4 linked regions of the Homo sapiens genome follow. The protein of the gene in region 1 interacts with the protein of each later gene in a biochemical or structural test. Each region holds a gene or a part of one and is shown in the gene's direction. Other genes may lie near its edges.

Region 1 (7,952 bases):
AACATGATGAAATGGTTTCCATCTACACATACAGTTCAAAATTACTCGCTGAGTTTTTAACGGAAAATTAGGGTCACGAAGTTAACACTGTAATTAATATATGTAACTGAAACTACTAAATATAAGAGAAACAATTCTGTACGTGAGATGTATAAGAAAAGCAGAGTTTGTTTTTCTTTTGAACAACATTTCGTGTAGTAATAAGAGATTGTAAAATATTTTTATCTTCTGAGTAAACAGAAAAAAAAAAAGGGGAAAGAGGGAGAGACATTCTGTTTGCCTCACGCTGTCTTTAGTAGGTCTATTGATTGCTTGGGAAACTAAGTCTCCTCTCTGTCATAGTAAAGGTTTTTGGTTTGGGAAATCTCTGAATTACCAATTTGATTAAATGAATGGCTTATTTTACAGTGACCTGTGGTCCTATTTTGAGATTGTTTTAAGCCTCTGATATTTGACTTCCCAAAACCAAATTTCAAGTCCTAACATTAAGGGTTTTTTTCACCTGAACTAACTTGGATATAACAAATAGGAACCCCGAGAAGTCCAAGGGAGATGTACGAGGCTTATGTGGTATGTTAAAATCATACAGGAAGCATTGTCAAATGTGGAATGCTGTTGGAGTTATATTGGTATAAATGTATTATTAACATATGTTCCAAAATTGTATGAGATTCCTAAAAATTCTGACATGTCTTGGTATATGTTATCAGTCGTGATTACGATTATATGTTAAACTGTTTTAACCTCAGAAGTAACCAAATTCCCTGCCAATCGCGTCTTCACCCATGGCTACTCTAAGTCTTTTGTCATCTGCAGAAAATTACTGTTTTACTTTGATTCTTCTCAAAATGCAGTTTAAGGCCGGGCACGGTGGCTCATGCCTGTAATCCCAACACTTCGGGAGGCTGAGGCGGGTGGATCACTTGAGGTCAGGAGTTCGAAACCAGCCAGGCCAATGTGGTAAAACCCCGTTTCTACTAAAAATACAAAATTAGCTGGGCATGGTGGCTCATGCCTGTAATCCCAGTTACTTGGGAGGCTGAGACAGGAGAATCGCTTGAACCTGGGAGGCGGAGGTTGCAGTGAGCCAAGATCGCACCACTACACTCCAGCCTGGGCAACAGAGCGAGACTCCATCTCAAAATAAATAAATAAATAAAATAAAATAAGGTACAGTCCAAAATTTGCATTTTCTTCAAGGAAATTCATGGAAAGGACATTGACAAGTATACAGACTTCCGATAACCTGGGAGATCACACCAGTAGACCAGATAAAAACTTCCAGGACTCTTATTTAAAAGCTGATGCATTCATGAGGATTGTTAACCCAACATCATACAGAAAAAAGCGGCCGGGCGCGGTGGCTCATGCCTGTAATCCCAGCACTTTGGGAGGCCAAGGCGGGCGGATCACGAGGTCAGGAGATCGAGACCATCCTGGCTAATACGGTGAAACCCCATCTCTACTAAAAATACAAAAAAATTAGCCGGGCATGGTGGCAGGTGCCTGTAGTCCCAGCTACTCGGGAGGCTGAGGCTGGTGAATGGCGTGAACCCGGGAGGCGGAGCTGGCAGTGAGCCGAGATTGTACCACTGCACTCCAGCCTGGGCGACAGAGGGAGACTCCGCCTAAAAAAAAAACAAAAAAAACCCCAGCAAATTACATAGAACTGAACTGATAGAGGCCTGAAATGCTTTTTATGATTTTTTGTTGTTATCGAAACCTTGCTGACTCTTTTTATATTTTGTTTTCCAGAGTCAGAAAACCTTTTTCTTTTTGAGCTATTTATAGCTATAGCAATTGAGTGACATATACTTTTGTGAGCAAAACTGAAATATTTGTCTTTTTCTCTACCTGATTTCTCAAAAATCTGGAAGCGATTCATGAGTATTCTTATTTTATGGCAATGTAGTTCTTTGCATGAGTTCAGTAAGAATCTGTTGTCCTTGTAACAGGACACAATTGGAGACCCTGGTTATTCTACCAAGGCTTGGACTGGGATGACGTATTTTTGGATATGACGAGACTGCTTTGAGGAATCGAGGTTCGCTTTATAGAGCCAATAAAAAGCCCCTTGGGATGACTGGACTGGTGCCCTGTTTACATAGTTCCCTTAAAAGGTTCTTGGCCTTGAGGTAAGGAAAGAATGTCACTTTCCGACAGATCCAGGAACTTCAAGATAGTTTGGGACCTGGAGGACAGACATTCACCCCCCCCCCCAAATTCATACAGGTATTATACATACACTGTGATGGGGAGCCACTGGCTTGGCTTCCTAGACATGGGAAGTGTTTGTTTTGTTTAGAGACAGGGTCTCGCTCTGTCACCCAGGCTGGAGTGCAGTGGTGCGATCATAGCTCACTGCAGCCTCAATCTCCTGGACTCAAGCGATCCTCCCATTTCAGCCTCCTGAGTAGCTGGGACTACAGGTGAGCACCACTATGCCCAGGTAATTTTTAAATTTTTTGTGGAGACAGGGACCTCGCTATGTTGCCCAGGTTGGTCTCAAACTCCTGGGCTCAATGAATCCTCCCACCTTGGCCTCCCAAAGTGCTGGGATTACAGGCATGAGCCACCATGCCCAGCCCTCAAGTGGCTTTTAAAGGTCTATTCTGACCCTCTTGTAGTTCATAAGCATGATGATTGCCTCATGTGTAGGGTCTGTCTCCTTCAAACGCTGTTATGACGCCAGCACATTACCTGTCTGATGTGGGGAAAAAAAGTCTGAAATTCCTTATGGCAAAGTTCCAGCCAGTTTAGAAAGGAGCCTATATGGCCAATCACCACTGTTGTACTTTAGGCAAATAATCAGGCCAAATATAATCCTAAAATTTATTTTACAAGTAAATTGGTCTTACCAAGATTTATCTTTGGTAGAAATGGGGAAGTAGAGAAAAATTATGTTTCAGAGAAAAACTACAGCATACCTGTTACTGGATTCTAGCCCTGATCATTGTATTTTTTATTTTCCTACAATCTGGACTAAATCCTGAACAATCTTCTGGCTACAAGTCTCAAAGAAGAACCTGGCTGGGCAGAGGTTCACACCTATAACCCCAGCACTTTGGGAGGCCCAGATGAGAGGATCACTTGGGCTCAGGAGTTCGAGACTAGCCTGGGCAAGGTGTCAAGACCTAGTCTCTACCAAAAAAATTTAAAATTAGCCGGTCCTGGTGGCAAACACCTGTATTCCCAGGTACTCAGGAGGCTAAGACAAGAGGATCATTTAAGCCCAAGAGTTCAAGGCTGCGATGAGTGGGAATCGTGCCTCTGCACTCCAGCATGGGTGACAGAGCAAGACCCCATTTCTAAGTAAACAAATAAATAAAAAGAAAGAAGAACATGGATTTTAGTTTCTTCATGTTTTTAGTTGTCTCCCTAATGGAACAGGTTTGTTTTTTTCATCCTGGCATACAAATTGGTTATAGTCCTATGTGTTACTTCTGAGAAAATTAAAATTAATGGTGTTTCTAAAAACTAGAGATGATTCAACAGGTGACAGCAGTTGTATAAATTAATGACTTCACTGAGACCTCATGTTTGCCACCCTGTAATGCCATTCCAATTCAGTTTGTGGTGTTCTTAAAAAAAAAAAAAAAAAAAAAACTCCCTGAAATGTCTCCTCCTTCCCTGCTTGGCATGGGACAGGACTATGTGGGAATGAGCCTTCCCAGCAAGAGGGGACACTCTGACCCTCAGATTTTGATAATCAATGCTTTCAAGAAGAAAGATTTTGATCAAAAGGGGGGCAAATGAGAAAGAAAAAAATCATTTATCTGAGGAATGTAAAGCCCTTTTAAACTGTGGGCCCAGAAAGCTTGATGTTAAGTGCCAGAAAGCATTTCAAATGAAACCGCAGCCCCTCACTACCCCTCGAGCCAAGTAACTATCCACTGATGACACCAAGCCGTGGTCAATCGCGAACCAATGCCATTTCTACAAGCCAGTGAGCTCCTGGGCAACGTTCGAAACCACCTGCTCTCCGATGGGCTCTGTTTTCTTTAAAAACCTGAGCCTCTGTTTTGTTCTCCGTTGCACCTGGTGACCCAGGCCGCCCTCGACCTCTGTGCCTGAATAAACCCACCGGGCACCACATTCTGACCCTTTTAATTATTTTAGGTTGACAACTAATACAGGACTCAGCGCCGGTGGACAGGAAGCCAGGGCCCCTGCAGGGAGGCGCCCGTCCCTTCTCCCGGGGAGGGCAGGGCGGGCGCGCGCGCGTCCCACCGGGAGCGCCTCCTCCTCGGCGAGGGAGCGAAGGGCCTCCGGGTCCTGTGATGTCCGTGCTCGGAAGGCGCGGAGGAGGGCAGGCCCTGCGGGACAGGGCGGCGGGGTCGCCGGGGTCGGCTCAGCTCCCCGCGGCGTCCGGCTGCTCGGCGGCCTCCGGAGCGGGGCCCTGCGGGAGAACGCACCTTCCCCGCCCCATCGGGGCCTCAGTTTCCCCACCCCGGGAGAGCCGGCGGCCCGCCCCCGGCTCACTCCCAGCTACGGCCCTCACCTCAGGACGCGCACCCGGCCCGGCCCCGCTCTGCCCCCGGCGCCCAGACCGCCCACCTGGCCCGCGCGGCCCGGGGTCGCTCACCTGCGGGGCCGGGACCGCCCCACACCGTCCACGCCCGGCGCGGAACCTTGGCCCGACCGCAGCCGCTGGCCCGGAGGGCTTTATCCGGCGCACCAAGGCCAGCGCGGGCGGGGCGAGGAAGCCGGGCGCACAAAGCTCCCGGCGGAAGTCCGGCCGGGGCGGGGGCCGAATGGGAGGTGGGCGAGGCCTGAGGGTCTGGAGTGGGCGTAGCCGTTTCTGGCGGGGGCGTGGCCTTACCGGGGAGGGGCGGGCGCCTGCCGCCAGGGGGCGCCGCGGGGCAGCGGGGTTGCACCTGGCGCTTGGCGCCCGCACCTCTGCCCGCCTCGGAGACCCCGCAGCCCCGCGCCGCCGCCTGGCCCCGGCCCCGGCCCCTCCGCGGGATCCTGGCCCCTCCTCGAGCGCCGCCACCGGCCGCCATGGCCTCTCTGGGGGACCTGGTGCGCGCCTGGCACCTGGGCGCGCAGGCTGTGGATCGTGGGGACTGGGCCCGCGCCTTGCACCTCTTCTCGGGCGTCCCGGCGCCGCCCGCCAGGCTGTGCTTCAACGCGGGCTGCGTGCACCTGCTGGCCGGGGACCCCGAGGCCGCGCTGCGGGTGAGCGGGGCGTGGGGAGGCCGGTGCGGGCGACGCCTCCGCCTCGAGCCCCTGGGGAGGGCCCAGCGCCCCTCCCCGACCGTCACGGGGTCGCCCTGCCGCCCCCGACCCAGCGAACGCCCCGGCAGGTGGGAGCCGAGCAGGGGGGCCGCACCTGAGCTAAGCGAGGCCGCGCTGGGGGGCGCGGCGGTCACCGGGAGAGGCCGGGGCCCGAGGGTGACTCACACCGGGAAGGGGGAAGCTGCTGGGCTGGGTCAGGCCCGAGGGACCGCCCTGCCCTAAGGGGAAAGCGTTGCGCCTGTGGTCATGGCCGGGAGACCGGGTCAGTCTCCTCCTCAGAGCCCTCAGCCCTCCCCCAGCCCACTCCCCGAAACAGCCAGGAGTCCAGGGTGCCAGGGTGCAGCGGCCGAGGCCCTGCACGGAGCCCGGTGCCCTTCTCGTGCCCCCTCGCGTTCCGGGGCCGCCTGTTCCTGCGCATCCCAAACGCCAGCGCTGCCCACCCCCGCTCAGTCCCAAGCACCCCGCAGAAGCAGGCAGGTGCCCACGGTTACTGAAGGCTCGGTGACAGCAGTGATTTAAAGGAGAGGGAACTGCGCGCTGTGGGAGGGTCTCCACGCCCCTGACTGGCAAAATATCCCCCTTGGAGGAGACTGGGCAAAGCGCATGAGACCCCCCTCTCTTGTGTCTTAAAGCTGCGTACAAATTTACAATCACCTCCATAATGATTTCATTTTTTTGTTTGTTTCAAAGATGGAGTCTCGTTCTGTCACCCAGGCTGAATGGAGTGCCGTGGCCCAATCTTGGCTCACTGCAACCTCTGCCTCCCGGGTTCAAGCAATTCTCCTGCCTCAGCCTCCCTAGTTGCTGGGAGTACAGGCGCCCACTACCACGCCTGGCTAATTTAGTATTTTTAGTAGAAACGGGTTTCACCATGTTGGTCAGGCTGGTCTTGAACTCCTGACCTCAGGTGATCCACCCTCCTCGGCCACCCATAGTGGTGGGATTACACATGTGAGCCACCTTGTCCGGCCCACAATGATTTCATTTTAAAATGTTATCCAAGAAAGGGAATGTAATCTTTAGACACCAGGTGGTTCAGCAACAAATCCTATGTCCGGGGCTAACCCAGTCACTTGTGCTCTTGTGCCTGGTTTCACTACAGAGAGGGGACGCAGTGAAAGTCATACGACTAACCCACAGCATATGCATGTTAGGAATATGGGAACTTAGGAAAGCAGATGGAACAGCTATGATTCATAAAGCCGATCACGTGAGGGGCAGCCCAGGGTGCAGAGGGTGTCGCTGGAACTGCTGTCTCTTGTTAGGAGCCTTGCGTGACGTTTGGGGCAGACAGGTGGGTTCTGCTGGCCCTGAGCCGCCACCCCACATCAGGGCTGCGTGCCTGTGCTCAGCCGCCACACTTCACACCTGTGTGAACTTGGTTCAACGACAAGCCCCCACTCAGCCAGATTTGTGAAAGAGACCGTAGCACCCTTCCTGTCACACACATTTAACTGATGGCCACGGTCCCTGTTCAGAACCTTCTGTGTCCTCCTGAGTCTGGTTTAAGGAAGAGCTGTGCTTTACACACAGATAAACACATGAAGACGTGTGTTGTTCTTTCTGATTCTAATAGATTTCTAGGGTGTCATTTTGCATGAACTATCAAAAAAGGATTTTTATTTTATTTATTTTTTGAGACGGAATCTCGCTCTGTCTTGCAGGCTGGAGTGCAGTGGTGCGATCTTGGCTCACTGCAACCTCTACCTCCCGGGTTCAAGCGATTCTCCTGCCTCAACCTCCCGAGTAGCTGGGACTACAGGCGCGTGCCGCCATGCCCAGCTAATTTTTGTATTTTTAGTAGAGATGGGGTTTCACCATGTTGGCCAGGCTGGTCTCAAACTCCTGACCTCAGGTGATCCGCCCACCTCAGCTTCCCAACATGCTAGGATTACAGGCGTGAGCTAACATGCCCGGCCTGTAATGCAGTTCTTTAGCTGCTGACTCTGGGATCTGGACTGCGTTATCTCGTCTCCAGTATGTGACAGCCAAGGTTGCCTGAGGTCAGGAGTTTGAGAATGTCTTGAACCCAGAGGCGGAGGCAGCAGTGAGCCAAGATCGAGCCACTGCACTCCAGCCTGGGTGACAGAGCGAGACCCCGTCTCAAAAAAAAAAAAAAGGATTTTTAAAAGACAAAAATCTTGCATAACCCCACTCCCCAGAGGTAACTATTATTAACATACTGGAACACTTTTTTCTGGCCTCTGTCCTTGTGCTCATGGTAAACACATTGGTTTTAGCAGCACCTCAGTGGGCTCTGCGCCTTGGACGGGTTGGGGTTGGGTGGGCTGTGGCAACCTGAGTGGCGACAGCCCTGCCCAGGCAGGGGCTCCGAAGGTTCCTGGACAGGAGCAGGAGGGGCTGTGGGGGGTCCCCAGGGGCTGACGGAATTCCGTGGCCCTGTCACCCATCACGCTGTATCTGTGATGCTGCGTGACCAGGTTACAGACCTTGGCATCCCGTGGGCATTTTTGTCCCCAGGCATTTGACCAAGCCGTGACCAAGGACACCTGCATGGCGGTTGGCTTCTTCCAGCGAGGAGTGGCCAACTTCCAGCTGGCAAGGTGAGTACAGGGGTGCCTTGTTCCTTCTCTGACGGCCCTTTGTCTCCCTGCAGAGTCCACTCCTGCACCTCCTCCTCCTCCCTCTCCATCCACTCCCTCCTCTTGCCCACCCCCTCCTCCATGGTTCCTGGCTCCAGGGAAACCTGAGAC
Region 2 (7,435 bases), on another chromosome or scaffold:
GGAGGGGTGCTGGGGGGAAGTGGAGGGGGCTGGGAGGGGTGCTGGGGGAGGTGGAAGGGGCTGGGAGGGGTACTGGGGGAGGTGGAGGGGGCTGGGAGGGGTGCTGGGGGGAGGTGGAGGGGGCTGGGAGAGGTGCTGAGGGGAGGTGGGGGGGGTGGGAGGTGGGACTGCTTCTGGTGCCATCTGGTGGCTTCTTTCGTGCAACACATTCTTACCAAATGCCCGCTGCACACCACGCATGCACTGTCCTGAGCGCTAGGAACAGCAGCAACCAGGACGGGCAGGGCTCAGAGCCTCCCCTGTGTGCCAAGAATACAGACAGCCCAGGCAGAGGGCATTCGGTGCTCCAGACACAAAGTGAAGGCCCAGCTTCAAATGTGGCTGGATCCAGGCACACATCCTGAGGTTCTGCTGGTCTGGACTGCTAACCCACTCACGAGGATCCATTCTCAGGCAGCCCCAGCCTGTCTCCCCACCTGGGCACGTCATGGCTGGGGTCTCTTGATGGGCAAGGCCTCCATTGATCGAGTCCCCTTTGGACTGGGGCAGCTCTGTAGGGACCAGCCCCACAGGGTCAGTGGGTCTCTCCGTGTGCGGCGACGAGAGAGTGTAGAAATAAAGACAGAAGACAAAGAGATAAGAGAAAAGGCAGCTGGGCCCAGGAGACCACTACTACCAATGCATGGAGACCGGTAGTGGCCCCGAATGTCGGGCTGCGCTGTTATTTATTGGATACAAGGCAGAAGGGGCAGGGTAAAGAATGTGAGTCATCTCCAATGATAGGTAAGGTCACGTGGGTCATGTGTCCACTGGACAGGAGTCCCTTCCCTGCCTGGCAGCCGAGGCAGAGAGAGAGAGGAGACAGAGAGAAAGACAGCTTACGCCATTATTTCTGCATATCAGGGACTATTAGTATTGTCACTAATTTACTACTGCTATCTAGAAGGCAGAGCCAGGTGTACAGGATGGAACATGAAAGTGGACTAGGAGTGTGACCGCTGAAGCACAGCATCACAGGGAGACGTTTAGGCCTCTGGATAACTGCGGGCAAGCCTGACTGATGTCAGGCCCTCCACAAGAGGTGGAGGAGCAGAGTCTTCTCTAAACTCCCCTGGGGAAAGGGAGACCCCCCCCCCTCTTTCCCGGTCTGCTAAGTAGTGGGTGTTGTTCCTTGACACCTTTTGCTACGGCTGGACCACGGCCCGCCTGGTAACGGGCGTCTTCCCAGACGCTGGCGTCACCGCTAGACCAAGGAACCCTCTGGTGGCCCTGTCCGGGCATAACAGAAGGCTCCCACTCTTGTCTTCTGGTCACACCTCACTATGTCCCCTCAGCTCCTATCTCTGTATGGCCTGGTTTTTCCTAGGCTATGATTATTGAGCAAGGATTATTATAATATTGGAATAAAAAGTAATTGCTACAAACTAATGATTAATGATATTCATATATAATCATATCTAAGATCTATATCTGGTATAACTATTCTTGTTTTATATTTTATTATACTGCAACAGCTCGTGTCCTCTCTCTTGCCTCGGTGCCTGGGTGGCTTGCCGCCCACACAGCTCCATTCAAGCCACGATGAAAAACGGGTGGCCATCTCTCCCCCACAAGAGAAAGGGGTACAAGGCCAACTGACATCCCCTGCTCCAAGGATCCCTGAAATGACATTGGGTTCCCCCCTTACCCAGAGACATGGCTGGTCAGGAGATCAGAGCAAGGGGGTGGACCGAAGGCTTAAGTGCTGAGCGGGAGGTCTCAAGTAGGGAGCTGGGAACCTGGAGGCCTGGCTTCCGTACTAGACCCCTGCAGTCCACCTCTTCCCTGTCCCACTGGGCAGTCAGGAAAGAAGGGAAGGGTCAGTGAGACCCCACACACATGAAACTTGGGGCTGGGGAGAGGCTGCAGGCCCAGCAGTCCAGCATCTGGGTGGGGGCAGGCACCGGGTAGAAGCTGGGCATAGCTGCTGGGGTGCATGCGGTGGGCTGGAGTGGTCAGCTGGCGACAGACGAGGGGTGGCCTGTCCTTCCTGGTGCTTTCCAAGTCCCATTTTCCTCCCAGAGTGGTGGGAGGAGAGGTGGCGGGTAGCTTAACAGCCCAAGGCTACATCCTGCTTGCTTCTTACAGGCAGGACAAGTCCCCTGCTAAATCAGCTCCGCGACCACCATCGCCTGGTCTCCCGGTGAGCAAGGCCAGATTTGCCTTTTAGGAAGTTCACTGACTGCAGGAAGAGGCCAGCTGGGAGGGACCAGCAGGACCAGAGAGGAGCTGTCACAGTGACAGCTCCAGTGAGGAGGGGTGGCCAGGACCAGCGGGGGTGGGGTGGGGGCATGAGCACGGAGAAGGGGTGGCCTGCTGTATTCAGGGGCCACAGCGAATCAGCTGGGTAGGAGAGGCGCCTCTGGCCCAGGGCTTCTCACTCCTGCCCTGCCACCGGCCCTTCCTGGCTCCCCTGCCGCTTCCCCTCTGGGCCTGGGACTGTCCTCCACCGGCGGCTCCCTCCAGGGGGGCTTCCCTTGCCCCCGCCGAGCTCTGAAGGTGCCTCTCCTGGAAGATGGCCTCCAGGCCCTGACGCCACCCGAAACTCCTCAGTGATCACTCCCTTGCAGTGCCACGACCCCACACTGTCCCCAGTAGGCACATGGGCGGGACCTCTAATGCCTGGGCAGGCAGGGGGTTCCCGGGGCAGGTCAGCTCAGTGATGAGAGGGGCCCGTTTCCACCGCCCCCCGCCCCCACCCCCACCCCACACGCCCGCCTGACCTGCTGAGCGGCCGGGGCCTGCAGCGAGGCCGCGAGGATTGCGGGCGGACGCCTGGGGGAAGCCTGACACCTCCCCACCTCCATGTCCCCCACCCTAGGGGCGAGAACGGAGCCGCCCAGTCCACGGGGAGGCGCAGGGGCGGGGCCGGTCGCCATGGGAACCCGACTCCCGCCCCGCCCGGCCGCGGCGCAGACAAAGGCCGCTCCCCTCCCCCGGCGGCCGCGGCCGCGGTTCCCACAGCTCCGGGGCTGCGCTCCGGCCTCCTCCTCCTTTAGCTGAAGCTCCATTAACTCTGCACAAAACCTCGGCCCGCCTCGGCCGGGCCCAGTGAAAGGCGCTCCCGGGCGGGGGCCCTCGGGGAGGCTGCCCGTGTCCTCGCCCCAACCCAGCCCGAGCGAGGAGAGGGGCCATCCCCGGGCCCGCGCCAGGCCCCCAGCCGGATGCCGGCTTCCAATGGGGAAACTGAGGCACGGGGCTTGGTCATGCAAAAGGGGCCGGAGCGGCTGGGACTGAGACCCGTTCCTTCGCCGCGGTCCGCATGGGTCCGGTGGCCAGCACCGTGCTGGCTGTTTTAATTTGGTTGCCGATATATAAAAATCAGATTTGACATTAAAACTCGGATTTTAGTGTTTTAAAAAAGGAGTGTTTTGGGCCACTGGGATCCTGATTTCTCACTTCGCTGGAGGGGGTCGCCCAGCCGCGAAGCCTCCCACCACGGCTCTACCAGGGCGGAGGTCGGTGGCCGGTGTTCCAGGGAGCAATGCTCCGCCGAGCCCCGGTCGCTTTCAAGTGGGAATAAAAGTAGCTGTGCGGCCCCGAGCGCGGCAGAGACGCCGAGTGGGGCGCTGCCCCCGTCACCGCCAAGGCAGCCCCCCGCGCCTGCCCGCCCGCGGGGCTGACTTCAAGGACCCTGCACCCAAAGGCGGCTCCTCGGACCTGGGATAGTCAGGGTGGGCTTCCTAGAAGAGGTGGCCGCTAAGGAGGAGGAAAGGTTCTGGGCAGCAAAAAGGATCCGTTTGGGGCCGCTGCTTGTGGGTAGGAAGGCCCCGGGGTGACGCCGCTGTCCCTGGTCCTGACAGTCCAGCGGTCGCGCCTCTCTCAGAGGGGAGGTCAGGGCGAGCCGGGGCAGGAGGCCTGGAAGGTTCCCGGGGCGCACCGCGGACCAAGGCCTGCAGGTCCTGCGCAAGAAAGCCAGGCCGGCCCTGTCCCAACGCCTTTCGGCTTATTTTCCTATCCAGTGCCGAGTCTTTAGAAGGTGCTATTCATATTTCTGTCTTGAAAAATACTTCCCATGGTTTACCCCTGGCTTCTTCGCTTTTGACGGTTCTCCCTCGTTGGGGAGGGCGCCGCCGGGGTAGGGAAGCCCGGGCCGAGCCCAGACGCGGGCGCAAGTCTGGAGAAGCGCGCGGCCCCCAAGAGGTGAGAGCCGGAGGGAGGTGTCCGCCCTCGGCGCCCCCCCCGGGAAGGGGAGGGCTGGTTTCCGCTCTGCCACCGCCTCCGAGGCGCAGGAAGCAGCGCATTTGTCTCCGGGAACCCCCCCACGCCCCGGCCACCCAGCCCGGGAAATCCGCCCGGGCCTCCCGGCCCCGCCCCGGAGCCCCGCCCCGCCCGCCGCCGCCGCCGCCTCCGCCGCCCTCCGCTCCGCTCGGCTCGGGCTCGGCTCGGGCGCGGGCGCGGGGCGCGGGGCTGGGCCCGGGCGGAGCGGCGGCTGCTCCGGACATGTCGGGCCCTCGCGCCGGCTTCTACCGGCAGGAGCTGAACAAGACCGTGTGGGAGGTGCCGCAGCGGCTGCAGGGGCTGCGCCCGGTGGGCTCCGGCGCCTACGGCTCCGTCTGGTAGGGGCGGGGCAGAAGGGGTGCTGGGTGGGGGCCGGGCCGGGCCGGAGAGCGCGTCCCCTCCTCGCCCGCGCGAGGTTCTCGGCGTGGGGAGGGGCCTCGCCCTGCCTCCGCCCCCGGGCGCCAAGCGGATCTGAGGAATGAATGGGGGGGCGGGGGTGGCGGCGTAAAGAAACTTTCCAAGCAGACGCCGTTACCGGGAGGGAGGGGGGTCCTCCGGCCTCTCCCGATTCGGACTGCTCCCCACCAGGCCTGAGGCCTGGGAGGTCACAGCTGGCGTGAGGGTGGGTCTCACGCGACCGAGCCCCGAGCCACCCTGATGTCCGGGCCCCTAAACGTCTGAGCACCCACCTGAGATTCACTGAGTCGGGTCAGGCAGCCCCCCGGGGTCTAGCGGATGACCCTCCCCCGCCCGGGCTGGGGGCTATTGTCTGAAAAGGGAAGCCCCGCTCCCGGAAGCCAAGATCTCTCCCCCTGGGATGGCCTCAGACTCCCCCTCAGACCACAAACCCCACTTAGGCCCTGGGGCCAGAGGACCTGGCCTGGGGCCCAGGAAGACGACAGAGTCTGGGTGGGGGAGGGGGGTCAACTGGGCCAAGGTCTCTGTTAGACCCGGGTAGCCAGGGCTGGAGGGGCTTAGGGTGAGGTAGTTACCGGGAGTCCTAAGTTTCAGCCTCCATGTTGACTGGGAGGCTGATCATGGGTACAGGCTTTGAGAGGTGCAGCTGAGTCCTCACCATGGCCAATGCCGCTTAGCTGCTGCCCACTGGGGGGTCCTGGTGGGGCGCAAAGGCAGAGGCAGCCAGGGCAGAGCTCTGCCCCAGGCACTTGCAGGTTGGAAGTGGGACCTCTAGGCCCACCAGATTTGGAGCTCAGGAGCCGGCATCAGGGGCCGGGGGTCCCAGGGCAGGCTGTCTTCTGGTGTGGTCCCTAGCCTTCCATCAGAAGCTGTAGGTGGGTCATTCTAGCCATCATGCCAGCACAGATCTGTCTTCCTCTTTGAGACCTGAAGGGCAGGAAGAGGGTCTGGGACGGTGTGGGAGTGGCCATAGGGGACTAGGGTGGGTCATGGCTGGACTCGCCGTCTGGGAGTTGCTGAGAGGTGTCCGGTTCTCTGAGTGAGGCCTGGTCTCCCCCCTTGCACCCCTGGCCCATTTTCTTAGTTCCACTGCCAAGGCTGCGGGCCAGGTGCCAATTCCCTGTCACCTGACCGCACAGATGCAATTGGCCAAAAGAACTTGCTGCCCCACGTGCAGGGCCACTCCCCTCACCACCTCAGGAGCACCTTTCCCTGGTCATAGGCTGGGAGCATGGCTGCCCCAGGCACCTCGACCTGCGCCCATGAGCATCCCAGACCCAGCAGGAGCCGCTCCTGCTCCCCTTGTGTGGGCATGGGGGGTGGCCTCAGCCTCCACTTGCTCTGAGACAGGATCCCAAGAGACAGAAGTGGGAGGGAGAGAAGAAGCAAGTATCAGCCAGAGGGAACAGGCTGTGCAAAGGCCTTTCCTTTAGCAGGGCTGAGGGCAGTGGGACATGGGAGGGTGGGATGAGGGTCACCTGCAAAGGGAGGGTGGGCTCAGGAAGCTGGTGCAGGGTAGAGGGTCTGGACCTCTGGGAAGTGGGGCTGGGCGAAGGGCTGTTCTGTGGGTCCAGCTGACGCCCTCAGCTGTACATCACCTTCTGTCCCGGTTTTGTTCCAAATAATGATGCAATAAACACCTCTGACCAACTTTCCCTCCGTATTTTGAACATTCGGAGGCACCAGGGGTCCAGGGGCTTTGAGGTGGCTCTAGAATCCCCCTCTGTGAGCCTCCTGGGCCCATGGGGTCTATGGGGCAGAGGGAGGCCCGTCTGCTGCAGGTGAATGCCAGTGACTGTTTTCCTGCTGTGTTTTTCCACGCTGGATGGGGCACCTCTCCCCCAGCCTTGCTTTGAATGGGGGCCCCTGGTTGAGCGTGGGAATCAGTGGGGCCAGGGGACAGAGAAGGTCCAGGACCTTGTGGGGTGAACACACGCATGGTGGTCCAGCCCCAGGGGCTCCTTCCCAGCAAGCGCGGAGTGGGTAGGCCCGAGGGTGGGAGGCCGAGCTGGGGCGGCGGGGCCGGGGCAGAAAAGCCCCACGGCCCCATCCCCACGGAGAAGCGGCGAGAGGGACGCCGCCCGGGTCCACGCGCGTGCGGCCGCCCTCGGACCCCTCCCGGCGCCGCCTCACTCGCCCGCCTTCCAGTTCGGCCTACGACGCCCGGCTGCGCCAGAAGGTGGCGGTGAAGAAGCTGTCGCGCCCCTTCCAGTCGCTGATCCACGCGCGCAGAACGTACCGGGAGCTGCGGCTGCTCAAGCACCTGAAGCACGAGAACGTGAGCCGGGGGAGGGCCGTGGGGGGAGGGCGCGTGCGGGGGCGGGGCCGCGGCGCAGCCAATAGGCGGGCGAGCCCTGGCGATGGGGGCGGGGACACAGGGGGCGCGGCCTGGCACTGGGGGCGTGGCCCGGGGGGAGCTGAACGACAGCCGGGGGTTCGTCGCCCGGCCCTGACGCCCCCCGCCACCTAGGTCATCGGGCTTCTGGACGTCTTCACGCCGGCCACGTCCATCGAGGACTTCAGCGAAGTGTGAGCGGCGGGGCGGGCGAGGCAGCGGGGAGCGCGTTCGCGGTGGGGCGGTGGGGCCCTGTCCTGACCCCCTGACCCCGCCCCAGGTACTTGGTGACCACCCTGATGGGCGCCGACCTGAACAACATCGTCAAGTGCCAGGCGCTGAGCGACGAGCACGTTCAATTCCTGGTTTACCAGCTGCTGCGCGGGCTGAAGGTGGGGCGCCCTGGGCTTCGCGGGTCCTCTC
Region 3 (7,833 bases), on another chromosome or scaffold:
GCCCAGGCTGCTCCTCCTTCCCTCCCCTGCAGTTCAGCTGCAGCTCCTTGGGGTCTCCACTGAGGAGGGGGCCAGTGGGTACCTGCTGTGGGCACCTCCACTTCTGCTCCAAACCTAAGAGGGGCAGGGCAGGTCCCCACAGGCAGTGTCCTGGGGACCACCCAACTGAGACACAACAGGCTCTGGCTGTGATGCACTTTAATGAGTGCCCTGCCCCTATCCAACCATGCCTGGCTAGCTGTCCCATGAGCTCTGGCTGACCACCCTCTAGTCACAGGAGCCATCCTTCCAGCCGTCGCGCCAGCGCTCATCCACTTTTGAGCAGTCGAAGTCAGGCTTGCCCAGCTTGCGGTTCACTTCATTGTGCAGGTGGCACAGCCACTGTGTGAAGCATGCCCGGGTGCGGGTGTCTGGGTGGTTCCTGCACAGCCTGTGTAGGGAGAGCAGGTAAAGAATGAGAGGACGCAGCGGCTCCACTGCCCCTGCCAGTTCCCTGTCTGCTGTCAAGGAAGGAGAGCTGGGGCACTGCTGTGAACTACACCTGGGAGTGCCCTTATGCTCCAAGGTACAGGCACTCCCAGAACAGGGCTGACCCTGCAGCTCCCCGGGTGTGATGAACTCCCAGGGCTGCGCAAACACCCACCTGGACAGCTTGGCAAACTCCAACGAGGCCTCAAGGCAACACATTACAGCACAGACCTGGCAATTTTATAAGCTCCTAACACCCAGGAAGCGGCATCCAGTGTCCCTGGCCTCAGGCAGAGTGTGGCCTGGGTGGGGCTGGGCACAGCCTTGTAACTGAAAACTGGACTTGTTTCTTAGCATCTGAGGGCAGGCCCTGGTGCGTCAGTTCAGCAAGAGACTTCATTCTAACTGACCAGCCTTATAGCAACAATGGCGGCTCTACCCTATACATCTGGCCTAGAAACACCTGCAAGGGCCAGTGCTGGCTCTTGGATCCCTCAGTGAGGAAGAGATGGCTCTTGGGAGCAAAAGCAGTGGATTTCCAAGATTTTAAAACCAGAAGTCCTACTCTAGAAGTCAGGCAAAGTGGAGTCTTCCCTAACTTGCGGGAAACCGCCTTCAGTGCCAGACAAGGCAGGGAATCCCTTCCTGGAAGCCCTGTGGCTGTGGCAGGAGCAGTACCCAGCAGCAGATCCCGACAGCTTGGCTTCTGAGACGAGAGGAGGAGGCTCAGATAGCCCCAGTCCTCACCTGTTGGAGGTCCCTGCTCCTCAGCAAACTTCTGCCACCTCTGCATCCGTTTCTCTACGTTCCCCGCTATAACGTCAGCCAGGAGCCCCAGGCCCAGGCTCCAGTGCAAAGCTCTGCTGCGTGCAAACACATCTTACCTTTTTCTTAGGTCTTCAGCACACTCCTCACAGGGGTAAAACTTAGAAAATAAATGTATGAACTGGGCCATGTCTTGCTGCTGTTCTGGGGTGGGCAGGTCGGGGTAGTAGGCGGCCAGGGTGTGGAGGACAGCCCAGCTGTGGCGGCCCAGTTCCTCGCGATCCGGCGGGCAGTCCTCCCTAAACTTGGTGTCCCGCTGCGGAAGCAGGCCGACCGAGAGTGAGTTCATTCTCCGAACAAAGGCGCCCAAAGCTCCCCACTGTACGGCCCAGCCGGTGGCCCACTGGACTCCGGCCAAAGTCCTGCAGACGATCCAACCCACGCGCGGATGAAGGCTGTAAGGCCGGGCCTACCCGGGGGGCAAGGTTCAGGGACAGGCAACCCTGGGAAGCTCTGCCGGGGTACCTGGGCGGGGGCGGGGACAGGGGCTGCGCGGGGCTGGGAGAAATCGGGCAGGGAACTGCACCTTCTGCTGCGTCCGCATCCACGTCTTGAAGTCGACGCAGGCCCGGCACGGCCGCCTCCGGGAGGCGTCCTCGGCGACAGGAGAATCGGAGGTCGGCGCCTGGGCTGGCGTCGAGGCCGAGGCGGCCGCGTCTCTCCGCCCCGCGCCCCGGCCCCGCGCGTCGGTCGCCAGGTCGTCCATCATCTCGGAGCGCGCGCCCCCCGGCAGGAAGAAGAGGTTCCCGCCGTGGAAGCGGCCCCGCTCGCCGGGCGCCGCCATGTTGCCCGCGCAAGGCCTGCCGGGTCAGCTCGGCCTCCAGATGAGCCTCCAGGTCAGCCTCCAGGCCAGCGCGCGGCCACAGGAGCCGGAGGCGCGCGCCGTGCTCGCGGGGGCCGGGCCCGAGCCGGGGCTGGGGGCAGAGTCGGGGGCGGTGCCTGCTTGCGGGCCCGTGTGGAGGCGGAGCCAGAGGCCGCGGCGCTGGCCGGGCCCGAGGACAGGGGCGGGGACGGAGCAGGAGGGTCGGACCCTGCTGGCGCCCTCAGGCGTCGATCCGCGGCGCACGCAGGGGTTGCGCCGTCCGTGGCGGCCGTCCCGCTTTCTCCAGTAAAAGAGCAGTGTGTGGCGCAAGGTGCGCCTCGGCCGCGCTGTGGACCCGAGCTGACACCCAGGCAAAGTCCGTGTTGCGGCCCGCGACGTCCCCATCGCTCCGTTCTGAGTGTCCTGCGTGCCTGCGGCCAGGCTTTGTGCCCTCCGCTGAGGGGCGCGTCCACCCGCTGGCTGCCAAGCGCTCTCTCAACGCGGGCCGGGCGTGACCGCACAGATTGCGGCGCGCGCTAGGGTCCTGGGCTCTTGTCCCCTCCCTGGCGCCATGGCAACGGGCGTCTGGCAACGCAGGGCGCGGCGCGGCCGCAGAGGGTTGGCGCGTGCCTTGGGCTCCCTGGCGCCCCTCGCCGGCTGTCGCGGATCCTAGAGCCTGGGATGAGGGGTCGGGCTCCCGGTTGGAGCGGCCTCTGGGATTCCTGTGCCTCCTTGCGTTCATTTATCCATTCCGCTATTATTTGCGCAGTGACCGCTCTGTTCCAAGCGCTGTTCCAAGTGCTGGGCAGAGCAGGGAACACAATTCTGTTCCCTGACCTTCTCTGTTCATAATCCAGTGGTCAAGACAGGAAAAAAAAACAAGGACTCACACTCATAAATGTTCACGTACAAACTGGTGGGTCCATGCAAGGGTGTAGTAAATCTGGAAGGCCTCCTTGAGGAGGTGACCCTTTCTGAAGGATGAGGAATCAGCTGAGGAGCGCCTTCGAGACCAAGCCCAAGGTGGCAGGGTCTTGGCATTTTGCAGGAACAAAAACGCCAGTGGGACGCTAGGGAGGGTTGTAAGGTGGGAGGGGAGATCCAGGGACGGACAGGGGCCCACCAAAGACTTGGTCGGCAGCTTCGGGGATTGGGAATTTATTATAACGGTAGGAGGGAAGATGCTAGACAGTTTTGGGCAAGGTTACCCAATCTGATCCCATTTCAGTTTGCTGCAGATTCCGCTGGCTATCATATGGGGAGTGGATTTCTTTTTTTTTTTTGAGACAGGGTCTTGTTCCGTTACCCAGGGTGGAGTGCAGTGGCGCGATCTTGTTCACTGCAGCCGCGACTGCTTAGGCTCAAGTGATCTCCCACCTCAGCCTCCCAAGTAGACTACAGGCACACGCCACCACGCCCAGCTAATTTTTGTATTTTTGGGGGGCACAGATGGAGGTCTCAACATGTTGCCCAGACTGGTCTCGAACTCCTGAGCTCAAGCAATCCCCCTGCCTCGGCCTCCCAAAGTACTTGGATTACAGGTGAGGCACTGTGTCTGTCCTTGGAGTGGATTTTGTAGGGGCAAGTGAGGAGCATACAGATGGAGGGTGGGGTGTACTATTCAGGCAAGAAAAGAGGGTAGGGGAGGAAAAAGTGGAAACCATGCAGGGCTGATGGGGTGTGGGGCAGGAGCTGTCAGCTGGGGTAGGCAGGTGGCCTCAGAATCCCTCTAGGCCTCTGCTTGTGAATAAATCCTCCCCAGCTTCTCCTGTCTTCCAGGGGAGCAAGGTCTCCCCTGGGTTCACACGCTGGACCCCACCAGGTCAGCTGGGCCCTCAGCTGAGACAGGGAGAAGGTGACAGCTGGCTGGGGGAACCCTGCAAATCAGCCCTATGTGAGCAGGTGTTCATTGCCCATGCCAAGACCAGGGACAGCTTGAGGGCATGAGAGAGAGTGCTGGTGGGACAGACACACAAAGGCCCTTTGTTGCAGCCAGGGCAGCTTCCTGGAGGGATGCCTTAGAGGCTGACTGCTCCCTGAAGGGGCTGGAGTAGGTGCATCCCAACACAGAACTGGTGGCCCCAGCACGAGGAAAAACCACTGTGTGCCAGGGTTGAATGTGGCTTCCGAAGCCCGAACTATAAGGAAGCAGCCAGAGAGGTGGGGCACCTGGGCGAGCCTCTGCCCAGGCCATGTTTGCAGTAAGTCATGGCAAATCGTGAATTGAGAGGTGGTTCTCAAAACAGCCCTAGTGACCACTTCCCTGACCACCACCCCCACCCACCAAATGCCAGTGACTGCACAGATGGGCCCTCTTTCTCCTACCCCAAGTCTCCTCACTGCAGGGGAACCCCTGGGGTGAGCCTGTGAGGTCTGCCCCTCCCCCAGCATGTATAGAACAGCTCACAATAATTACGCATTTAACACACATTTCCTCCTCTATGAGTTGGGGACATTAAGAGACCTTTCCTCCAGCATTAGGATTAAGTCAGACAAAGCACTTAAAGCTGTAAGCACTGAGTCCTTGGTTCTGCACAGAAATCCCCAGGCCAGTTCAAAGTTGTTGGGCGCACCCTGGCAGGGCAATTACCTCACAGGGTAGGGGAATCCAGAGAGGTGGGCAGGACAGGTGGCGCTTTGATTAGCCCTGCCTTCTCCTCCCTCCTCCTGTGGCCAGAGGCAGGCAGGAGGGCCCCAGGCAGCAGTCCCGCCTACCCTTCGCCCCTTCTTCAGTCTTGCACGCCTCCAGGGCTGGAAAGCTCATTCTTCTTCTTCCTCCCAGCAGCTCTGCCTGGAAGTCCCCCAATCCCTGTGCTCCTGCCCCCAGATCGTGGGCTTGGGGGACAGCAAGAAAGCTGCAAAGGACTCAGCTGGGGCGGCTCCACAAGGACCCCACAGGCTTGAGGTGTTGCCAGGATTCTATCCCAGGGGGTTTTCTGGGTCCCCCAGAGCCCTCTCAAGCACGGGGAGGCAGAAGGGTCCTCGCCCATTTCAGGAATCTGCAGCCTGGAAGCCACAGCCATGGCAGGCCCCCGATACCCAGTTTCAGTGCAAGGGGCAGCCCTGGTGCAGATCAAGAGGCTCCAAGTAAGACCTGGCTGGGTCCTTAGTGGCCCCAAGGGATAGGAAGGGGGTGCCTGGACCAGCACCTCCACGGCACTCCCAACTTTTTGTCCCCCAGACGTTTGCCTTCTCTGTGCGCTGGTCAGACGGCAGCGACACCTTCGTGCGCAGGAGTTGGGACGAATTCAGGCAGCTCAAGGTGAGTGACCCTGGGCCACCCTGATGCCGCGGTGGCGGCTTCCCCACGCGGCTGCCTCCCACTGGACTGCCTCCCATCAGTGACTCCCACTGGAGGCCCTTCGTCCCTGCTGAAGCTCCCAGCCCCTGCCATCCGGGTGAGGGACCCCGCCCTCTCAAGGGTGCACAGTGGGCTCTGGAAGACCAATGCCCTGGTTCCCGCCCTCAGAAGACCCTCAAGGAGACCTTCCCGGTGGAGGCGGGCCTGCTGCGGAGATCTGACCGCGTTCTCCCAAAGCTTCTCGGTCAGGCCAGCCTGGGTACGGGAGCGGGGAAGGCGGTGGCTTGCCTGGGGGCGCCAGGGACCAGTGAAGCCCAAAGCGGCGTATCACAGTACGTTTTTGTGGTGCCTTAAGATGCACCACTGTTGGGACGCGTGGGGCGCACGAGCCGCGGCCTGGCGCGCCTGCAGCTGTTGGAAACCTATTCTCGGAGGCTGCTGGCGACTGCAGAGCGCGTGGCACGGAGCCCGACGATCACTGGCTTCTTCGCACCGCAACCCCTGGACCTGGAGCCCGCGCTGCCACCCGGCAGGTGCCTGACTCGCCCCAAACTCCCAGCATGCAGCGGCGTTTGGAGCTGGGAGAGGTCCAGGGTGGGGGGGAACAGCCAGCGAATAGGGGCAGAGAGTGGGAGGCTGGCGGTCTTGCCGGGGTGGCGCCCCCAGTTTCACCCTCCCCATCCGCCTACCTCTCACTCGTACGGGCTGCCCTTCCCAGCCGGGTGATCCTGCCCACCCCAGAGGAGCAGCCTCTTTCTCGCGCTGCGGGCCGCCTCTCCATCCACAGTCTGGAGGCTCAGAGCCTGCGCTGCCTGCAGCCCTTCTGTACCCAGGACACGCGGGATAGGCCTTTTCAGGCGCAGGCCCAGGAGAGCCTGGACGTGCTGCTGCGGCACCCCTCAGGTAGGGCCCCCCAAGAACCCAGGGATTTGCTCCTCTGCTCCTGGACCCGAGGGAGCCTCGAGATTTGAGTCCCTGCCCGCTTCTTGCGCACAGGCTGGTGGCTGGTGGAGAACGAAGACCGGCAGACCGCCTGGTTTCCAGCGCCCTACCTGGAGGAGGCGGCCCCGGGCCAAGGCCGGGAGGGAGGCCCGTCCCTAGGGAGCAGCGGTATGCGCCTAACCCCACCCCTCACGCCACCACTGCGGCTTGACCGTGTGGCAAGACTGGGCCAGAAGCACCGCGGGCAGGGCGGGCCAGGAGCCCGTGCTTGGTCTCCGCACCTAGAGGAAGCCCCGAACCGGTCTTAGAGCGGCCCCGCCGTCAGCAGACTCAAGCAAGGAGAATGTGGAGAAGGGTGCGGGCGGGCCTCGTCCTCTGTGGCCCCGCGGTGACTCCAAACACCCACTCCCACCAGGTCCCCAGTTCTGTGCTTCCCGCGCCTACGAGAGCAGCCGCGCAGATGAGCTGTCCGTGCCCGCGGGGGCGCGCGTGCGCGTGTTGGAAACGTCAGACCGCGGCTGGTGGCTATGCAGGTACGCGGGAGCGGGCGTGGGCAGGGCAGGCTAGCCGAGGCGGGCGGGGCCCTAACCACACCCCGCCCCTCGCAGGTACGGCGACCGGGCGGGCCTACTCCCCGCGGTGCTGCTGCGGCCGGAAGGGCTGGGCGCTCTCCTGAGCGGGACGGGGTTCCGTGGAGGAGACGACCCGGCGGGTGAGGCCCGGGGCTTCCCTGAACCCTCCCAGGCCACCGCCCCTCCCCCCACCGTGCCCACCCGACCTTCGCCGGGCGCCATCCAGAGCCGCTGCTGCACCGTCACACGCAGGGCCCTGGAGCGGCGCCCACGGCGCCAGGGCCGCCCTCGAGGGTGCGTGGACTCTGTGCCGCACCCCACGACGGAGCAGTGAGCGCGAGGATCCCGATGAGGGGATGGACCGCGCCATCCCAGGGCTGGGGAGGAGCGGGGAGGGCGGATCTCCCTGGCCAGCAGGGATGGGAGGGGGCCATTTGCTGTTCCTCTGAGTAAAGCTTGTTCTGCATGACCCCCACCGTCTAAGCGTGCGGAGCCGCGGGCTGGATCTCTGCCAGGCCAGGGTGCGGGATGGGCGTGGCAGGGCCGAGACCATCAGCTCCAGTGCCCTTCTGGCTGGCTAGGTAGGGTGTTGGCCAGGGTGGGGGGCTGGACTGCAGTCCAGAGAGACAGAGCCGGCCAGGAGAGCGGCCTTTATGGGTTTTCCAGGGGTTCAGGATGGACTGGAGAGAGGCCGGACCGGCTAGGGCAGTGCGCCTTTATGGGTTTCCCAGGGGGTGGGGGCGGCGGCCGGCACAGGGAGCTTCATGTTGTGCCACAGGAAGTCCAAGAAAGCGGCGGCCTGGAGGGTCCTGCTGAGCCGCTGAAAGTGCCGCTCTGGGGTTGGACAGAGGGAGGTCAGGGGGGTGGTCCACACGCCCACCAGGATCCCCCAACCCCAGGCTGTGCCCACATACCAGTGTAGG
Region 4 (7,127 bases), on another chromosome or scaffold:
ACTAAAACATCCCAGGTGTTTCCAGGGTGTAGCTGAGGTTGAGAATGTCTGCCCACCTATCCTGGGGCAGCGTCCTCACCCTCTGACTCCATATCTTTTTTTGGGGGGGTCGGGGGGATAGAGTCTCACTGTGTCACCCAGGCTGGAGTGCAGTGGCATGATCTCAGCTCACTGCAGCCTCCGCCTCCTGGGTTCAAGCGATTCTCGTGCCTCAGTCTCCTGAGTATCTGGGATTACAGGTGCCCACCAGCACGCCCGGCTTCTTTTTGTATTTTTAGTAGAAATGGGGTTTCACCATGTTGGCCAGACTGGTCTCAAACTCCCAACATCATGTGATCCACCTGCCTCAGCCTCCCAAAGTGTTGGGATTTGACTCCACATCTTGATCACATCTTTCCCTTGTTTCTCTCTTCTGTCTCTAGCCCTTGTTCTCATCCGCTTCCCCACTTCAATTTTCCTCTTATTTTCTCTTTCCTAGCTTCCCCAGCTTCCCCTCTTCCATCTTCCTTACAACTATTCCTATGAGTAATGCCCCCTAGCATTGCCTCTTAGCCTGACATTCTTGAAACCATACAGTTGAAACCCTGTTAGAACATTACCACACTGTACTGTTTTCCCCGGCATTTGCTTACCACTCCGTAAGCTGTTGGTGCAGTTTCTGCACATCTAAGATTGTTCTCCACCAGTAACTTGTATTAAGAGCAATTATGATCATCACTATTGTGCTCTCACCGAGTGCCTATCACTGCTCTAAGCACTTTACATGGATGAGCCTACATAATCCTTGCTTGAAGGAGATATAATTTTCCAGATGAGGAAACTTAGGAAGATAAAATAGCTTGTCCACAACCACAGAGTGGCAGAGCCAGAATTCAAATGCAGGCAGCCTTGCCCCAGATCCTACACTCTGAGCAGATGGGACCCTAAGTTAGTTGCTCGTAATCCTGATTCAGGTGTCCTGGCATGCCATGAGTCACACTCACACAGGCTGTTCTCTGCTGTGATAAGAAATTGAAATTTGGACCCACTATTTGCTTCAATGACATTTAGAATTGATAACTCTTTTTATTTTCAACTTAAATGGTAGTATCTCAGTAGGACACTCACAGCTTTAAATCCCATCAAGATTTTAACTCATCACCATTCCGAAGAGATCTTACTTAAATGATTTTTTTTGTGTGTGTTGTCTGTCAGGAATATAAATTGAAGATATAAAAGCCAGCACCCGCAATAATTCTGCAACTGGTAGGAGGCAACCCAGGACCTCTTGGTGACCTTAATAAGGGTCTTCTTTGGCTTATCCAGGATGTGACCTTCTGCAGCCTCCAGTATTAGACATTCCAGGGCATTTTCTGCCTTTTAAAAAGCATCTGATTCTCATTCTGGTGTTTAATCAGAGAGAGACCGTTGGCCTCTTTCCATTCCTCATGGGAGAGCTCCATTTTTGTGCTCACATTTTTCATCTTTGGTGATACTCAGGGTTGATGTTTTAGTGGGCTAGACTTTCTGCATTGGATTAAAACCTTTCACATGAGCTTGGTGAATTCTCCAGTGACCAAGTCCCCTGGGGGCCTCCAACCCTATAGATTCCAGCATGATAAGAGTGGAAAGGAGTCCGGAACATCATGCCTGGGGTATAGTGAGCACTCACACCATGGATTTATTTTTTCATTTTCCAAGCCCCCAACCATGTAAGGTATTTTATAAACATTATTTTATTTGATTCTCCCAACAATTCTATACCACTGGAATTATGTCCGTCTTCATTTTTCTAGATGAAGAGACAGAGGCTCAGAGACTAAGCTTCCCAGTGCTCAGGGTTACATGGTGAAGGAGGCAGAGTTTGCATGTACACCTGCTGAGCCACAGGGACCATGCCTATGTGTTTTATTTGTGTGCTATCTGCTCCCTGAGATGAATGAGGTTAGATATTTTCTTAGGAGAAGAAATACTTGGAAGGCACAAATGGGGTATGACAAACTATGTTCAGCTTCTCTGTGGCTAGCAGACCTGAGCTAGCCCCCTCCCCCTCTGTATTTGAATATAGTCCCATCTGTTACCTACCTATGTAAGGCTTCCAGGTAAGGAGGATGTAAGGCTGTTGGCTGGCAGGAGGCAGAACACAGTAGATCCACAGACTAGTAAAGGCAATGCCTGTCTCTGACTTCCGATCTTAGGGCTGTACCTCCCTCATTTGTGTCCAAAGACCCAACATCTTTAGGGTTCTCCCCCTGCCTCCTCCCCATCTAACCCTGCCCACTGACAACTCCAGTGCCTTCTTCTCAAGTTCTTCTGTAATTCTTAATTTAATAATCAAACTATGCTGATAAACTATGCTAATTGCCTAGATCTGTGGTTCTGCAACTTTTATGGACATCAGAATCACCTGGAGGCTTGGTAAACACAGATCATTGGACCTCACCCCAGAGTTCTGATTCAGGAGGTGTTGCCAGTGCCGCCGGTCCAGGGACCACACTGTGGGAACCACTGAATCAGGGAGCCTGGTCCCAGTTATATGTGTGTTGATGGTGTCTGACCAGTTGGGTATCTGATAATTCAGCCTTACTGGGAAAGATGCCATGGGAAGATAGGAAGGCATTTGAGATAGGAGACTCAGGCTTTTGTCCCTTCATCATAGCAGTAGATAATTATCTTTTACGTTGACGTGCAGTGGCTTTAGACAGCTTCTCATGGTTGTGAGCCTCTGCCAGCTCTTAAATCTTTGAGCCTGTTTTCCTCTGTGGATGAAATGGCCTTTCCTTCTAATTATTTTTGATTCCCATATCAGGTTTCTCAAGCTAAGATTGCATTGGAAGCACCTGGAGGTCTTGTTAAAGTGAGGATTCTGAGTTATTAAGTCTGAGGTGGGACCCAAGGTTCTGCATGTCTAATGAGCTCCCAGGTGATATAGATGCTGCCGGTCCATGGACCAGCAATTCTGAGTTACAACTGTATACAGCAGTGGTGCTTGCCCCTGCTGCCCAGTAGAATCACCCAAGGAGCTTTTAAAAACGAATACTTGAGCCACATTCCTTGGAGATTCTAGTTTAATTCTGGGGATTAGAATTTTTAACTCCCCCATTCCCCAACCCCCATGTGATTCCAATGTACAGTCAGAGTTGGAAGCCATTGGCCTTTACCCACAAAAAGGGATAACACCTTCTGGGAGCTCAGGTGCGTGTGTGGCACCATAGACCAGGTTGGGCTGGTCGCTTCCATGCAGGGAGGGTGCACCATTACTCCTGGGGAGCTGCAAAGGTCACCTGGGAATCTTGTTAAATTACAGATTCTGCTTTGGCAGGTTTGGGGTGGGACCTGGGTTTCTGCATTTCTAATAGATATCTTAGTGTTGCTGATGCTGCCAGTCCAGGCTGGTGCTAAGTCCCAAGACCCACCCACAAGGGCCCACACGATGCCCATTATCTCTGCCGGTGGTGGCAGCGGGTAGCTTTTCTCATGTCGAGTGTTAGAGGCTTTTGGCTTCCACCATCTGTCTCCTTAAACGCCATTCTGACGTCTCTTTTATTCAGCTTGGTATTGACACAAGACAGCGGGCAATATAGGTCTGTTCTCTTTTTGTAATATTTTCTTCCTTCTCTCTTCACAGTACGAGATGCAAAAAATCTAATCCCTATGGATCCAAACGGGCTTTCAGATCCTTATGTGAAGCTGAAACTTATTCCTGATCCCAAGAATGAAAGCAAGCAAAAAACCAAAACCATCCGCTCCACACTAAATCCGCAGTGGAATGAGTCCTTTACATTGTAAGTGGTCTCTCCTTGATCAAATTTCATTCCTATACACCATGCAGTTGCCCACCTCATTATTTGAGGTAATGAAGTAGGTTCATTATAAACGTCTTTAAACATGTCTTCAGTCCTAAGACCTCCTCAGGCTGCCATTAGGGAGGTAGCTATTAGCACCTGTTCGATAGATAGTAATTTGATTTATCAAGAGTTGCATAATTCAGGCCTCAGATTATTATTATCTAATCTGGATAAACAATTCTATTTAAGGAAATAGAATTAAGGTAAATAGAATTTAAGCTAAAAATGTGTCAGGTGTGTCCACCTCTTGATGGACTTAGGTTCTTTTGGGAGTTAGGGGAGGGCATAAGGCAAGAATTTAAATAATTTTTAGACCACAGAATGAGTGAGTAACATAGAAAGTGTTATTGCCACTGAAATGGGAAGATCATTCTTGCCTTCAAAGAGAGAAGACTTCCTGGAAAAGGTGACATTTAAAGCCAGCCTGGGAGGGTTGCCAGGATTTCAGAGGTAGAGAAGGGGAAGAAGGAAGGAGGGAATAAATAAATCAGGAGGACTGAGTGTAGCTGAGGGAAAGCAAGAGTTCCCCTTTGTAGAGTAGTATACAGGAAGCAGTTTTTCTGTGGACAACCAGAAAGGTAGCTGTCTGTTCTAGAGGGACCAGCAAGCTCTGCTCTATAAAGGATCAGATAGTATATATTTTAGGCCTTGTGGGTCATATAGCCTCTGTTGCACCGGTATAACTTTCTAGTGCCAAAGGAGCCATAGGCAATATGTAAACAGATAGCCATGGCTGGGTCCTAATAAAACTTTATTTATAAAAATAGACAGTGGGATAGATTTGGCCCATGGGTCATAGTTTGTTAACTCCTGTAGCGCTTTGCTTGCCAGCATAAGGGGTTGGTATTTTACTGGACCAGGAAGACAAATATACTATTTCTTTATCTCAGGCTCGAGTCATATACATGTGGTATCTCCCAAGAAACCATGATCAAGATAACCTAGTGTTTGCATGTGTGTGTGTCTTGTAGCAAATTGAAACCTTCAGACAAAGACCGACGACTGTCTGTAGAAATCTGGGACTGGGATCGAACAACAAGGAATGACTTCATGGGATCCCTTTCCTTTGGAGTTTCGGAGCTGATGAAGATGCCGGCCAGTGGATGGTATGGAAGCCGCTTAGGTTGAGTATGTCTCAAAGCATCAGACCATTTAGACAGTTAGGTTTCAGTCTCTCAAATGTCAGTTGAGGCTGGACATGGTGCCTCATGCTTGTAATCCCAGCACTTCAAGAGGCCGAGGCAGGTGGATTGCTTGAGCTCTGAGGTTTGAGACCAGCCTGGGCAACATGGAGAAACCCCACCTCTACAGAAAATACAAAAATTAGCCAGGTGTGGTGGTGTACCCCTGTAGTCCCAGCTACCCAGGAGGCCGAGGCATGAGGATCACTTGAGCCCAGGAGGCTGAGGCTGCAGTGAGCTTTGATTCCGCCACCGTCCCCCAGCCTGCACAACAGAGCTACCCTGTCTCAAAAATATAAAAATGTAAAAAAAGTCAAATGTCTACTGATCTGGCTGTAGCCTCTCCGTAGGATGCGTTTCACAAAACCGCTCGACTAGAGGCTGCAGGAAAGGCTTGTTAAACTTGCGGTGGTAACTCTTCTTCTCCCGTCCTTGAAAGGTACAAGTTGCTTAACCAAGAAGAAGGTGAGTACTACAACGTACCCATTCCGGAAGGGGACGAGGAAGGAAACATGGAACTCAGGCAGAAATTCGAGGTGAGGATAACAAAATGCCCGGAAACACCTTTCCTTTAGAAAGCCCAACTTCAGGAACGGCCGAGATGTTGTGGTCACATTTTTGAAAAGCAAAAAAAAAGTAATCTCAATGTTAATGATCTTTTTCTTTATTTAAAAACATGAATGTTGTTCGTTCCCTTTCCTTTGCAAGCTGTTGACTTTTTATGACTCTTACCACTTAGAAAATGGAAACTGGAAATATCGCAGAACTGAGAGCATGGTTGATTTCTGCATAAGAGATCTGTTTGCACATCACTGGGGAGAGAAGCAGGCTCTGAGGGCAGGATTGTTCTTACAAAGGAGGACTTGTGCTCTTCTGAAAAGGAGGAAGTCATTTTGGCCTTTCCTTGGGAGCTCATTTGTGTGTAATCAGGCTATCATCTGAGACTTTTTTTTTCTACAGAAAGTACAAGGTTCCTAATTTTGTTCTGAAAGAGCAGCTTAAACAAATATGCCTTTGTGTGTGATCCCTTTTTATTTATGCTCCAGATGTTTAGCAAAGGCCACCTCCTTCTCTTCTTCCTCTTGGTATTTGTGTTTGCCTCTGTCCCGGATTCACTGGTCTTTTTACTTCTCCTCCTCTGCTCCTTACTCCTCTTTTTCTTCTCCTCTCTCTCCCTTCTCCTCTTCATTTACCGACATCTCAGCTTTTAGTAAACGGTTCTTTTCTGTAAGCACCTTCCTTATGTTTTAAAGGCACAACTTCTAATATTTGTCTGTTTCTCTAATCACCCTTCATTTTGGCTGTTCGAGGGACTCCTAGAGTAGCCTTTTCAGTCTGTGTAACTGGTTAATTCCTTCGTGAATCTTTCTCTTCTTCAGACTTGTTAGAATTCCCTGGAATTTCCCCGCTCTAGAGCAGTACACGTGCACACGCACACATGTGTGTAGATGCTGAACTGCTACTGAAATGTTGACACTAATGGGATGCTGATGCTCCTCTTTTCCTTCTTCTGTTGTTCTCCAAGAAACATACAGATCTGGGGGGTGGGGAAGAGTGGTCTTGGGGGGATAATAAACCTCCTTCATGCCCCCCACAAAAGAAACATATAGGTCTTATCCAGAGAGAATGAATCCCAAAGGATGTAAAACATGCAGTTGTTCAAATTACTTTGTTAAACTGATGTTTGGTTAAAGTTGATGTTTGTGGCAAATACTAAATGGCAGGGGCTCTTTGGTTAGATGTCCTTGGGAGCACAGACGAGTGAAATGATTCACAGATAATAAATGGCAATGAACGGCAGGCCTCGGGATTGAAGCAGGAGGGAGTGGTGGAGACTGGGGTGAGCTGGTAAGCTTCAGCTCTGTCTGCAGGTGGCAGCTACGGCTACCCTGCCCCACTCGATGTTTCTCACAGGCGAGTCCAGGCCCTCTATTGCCGGATCTTCCTTCTTCCAGAGAAGCCAGAAATCCAGGTTTTTATATGATACATTCTGATTTATCTTAATGTTGGCAGAGTTCTAATGTTAAAACTTAGAACCAGGCCCTGTGCAGTGGCTCACTTCTGTAATCCCAGTACTTTGGGAGGATGAGGCAGGCAGATCACTTGAGGTCAGGAGTTC

The links.
Region 2: of the proteins of NOXA1 (region 1) and MAPK11, one has a biochemical effect on the other in vitro, tested with the Homo sapiens proteins (one study listed by BioGRID).
Region 3: the proteins of NOXA1 (region 1) and NOXO1 form a complex in vitro, tested with the Homo sapiens proteins (2 studies listed by IntAct).
Region 4: of the proteins of NOXA1 (region 1) and PRKCA, one has a biochemical effect on the other in vitro, tested with the Homo sapiens proteins (one study listed by BioGRID).

What each region holds. Positions count from the first base shown.
Region 1 is NC_000009.12:137,418,529-137,426,480, forward strand, and holds the start of NOXA1 (NADPH oxidase activator 1), read left to right. Parts: upstream 1-4,864; 5' UTR 4,865-5,001; coding exon 5,002-5,178; intron 5,179-7,717; exon of another isoform or gene 7,718-7,719; coding exon 7,720-7,802; exon of another isoform or gene 7,803-7,952.
Region 2 is NC_000022.11:50,267,340-50,274,774, reverse strand, and holds the start of MAPK11 (mitogen-activated protein kinase 11), read left to right. Parts: upstream 1-4,394; 5' UTR 4,395-4,482; coding exon 4,483-4,598; intron 4,599-6,825; coding exon 6,826-6,955; intron 6,956-7,147; coding exon 7,148-7,206; intron 7,207-7,292; coding exon 7,293-7,404; intron 7,405-7,435. UniProt on the Homo sapiens protein: Serine/threonine kinase which acts as an essential component of the MAP kinase signal transduction pathway.
Region 3 is NC_000016.10:1,978,463-1,986,295, reverse strand, and holds NOXO1 (NADPH oxidase organizer 1), read left to right. Parts: upstream 1-4,826; 5' UTR 4,827-5,116; coding exon 5,117-5,182; exon of another isoform or gene 5,183-5,276; coding exon 5,277-5,357; exon of another isoform or gene 5,358-5,564; coding exon 5,565-5,640; coding exon of another isoform or gene 5,641-5,655; exon of another isoform or gene 5,656-5,751; coding exon 5,752-5,929; exon of another isoform or gene 5,930-6,114; coding exon 6,115-6,299; exon of another isoform or gene 6,300-6,392; coding exon 6,393-6,506; exon of another isoform or gene 6,507-6,753; coding exon 6,754-6,871; exon of another isoform or gene 6,872-6,946; coding exon 6,947-7,244; 3' UTR 7,245-7,379; downstream 7,380-7,833. Other genes in the region: GFER (FAD-linked sulfhydryl oxidase ALR), read right to left, coding at 268-430, 1,353-1,549, 1,820-2,077; TBL3 (transducin beta-like protein 3), read right to left, coding at 7,611-7,744, 7,825-7,833. UniProt on the Homo sapiens protein: Constitutively potentiates the superoxide-generating activity of NOX1 and NOX3 and is required for the biogenesis of otoconia/otolith, which are crystalline structures of the inner ear involved in the perception of gravity.
Region 4 is NC_000017.11:66,683,504-66,690,630, forward strand, and holds part of PRKCA (protein kinase C alpha type), read left to right. Parts: intron 1-3,607; coding exon 3,608-3,764; intron 3,765-4,798; coding exon 4,799-4,933; intron 4,934-5,447; coding exon 5,448-5,544; intron 5,545-7,127. UniProt on the Homo sapiens protein: Calcium-activated, phospholipid- and diacylglycerol (DAG)-dependent serine/threonine-protein kinase that is involved in positive and negative regulation of cell proliferation, apoptosis, differentiation, migration and adhesion, tumorigenesis, cardiac hypertrophy, angiogenesis, platelet function and inflammation, by directly phosphorylating targets such as RAF1, BCL2, CSPG4, TNNT2/CTNT, or activating signaling cascade involving MAPK1/3 (ERK1/2) and RAP1GAP.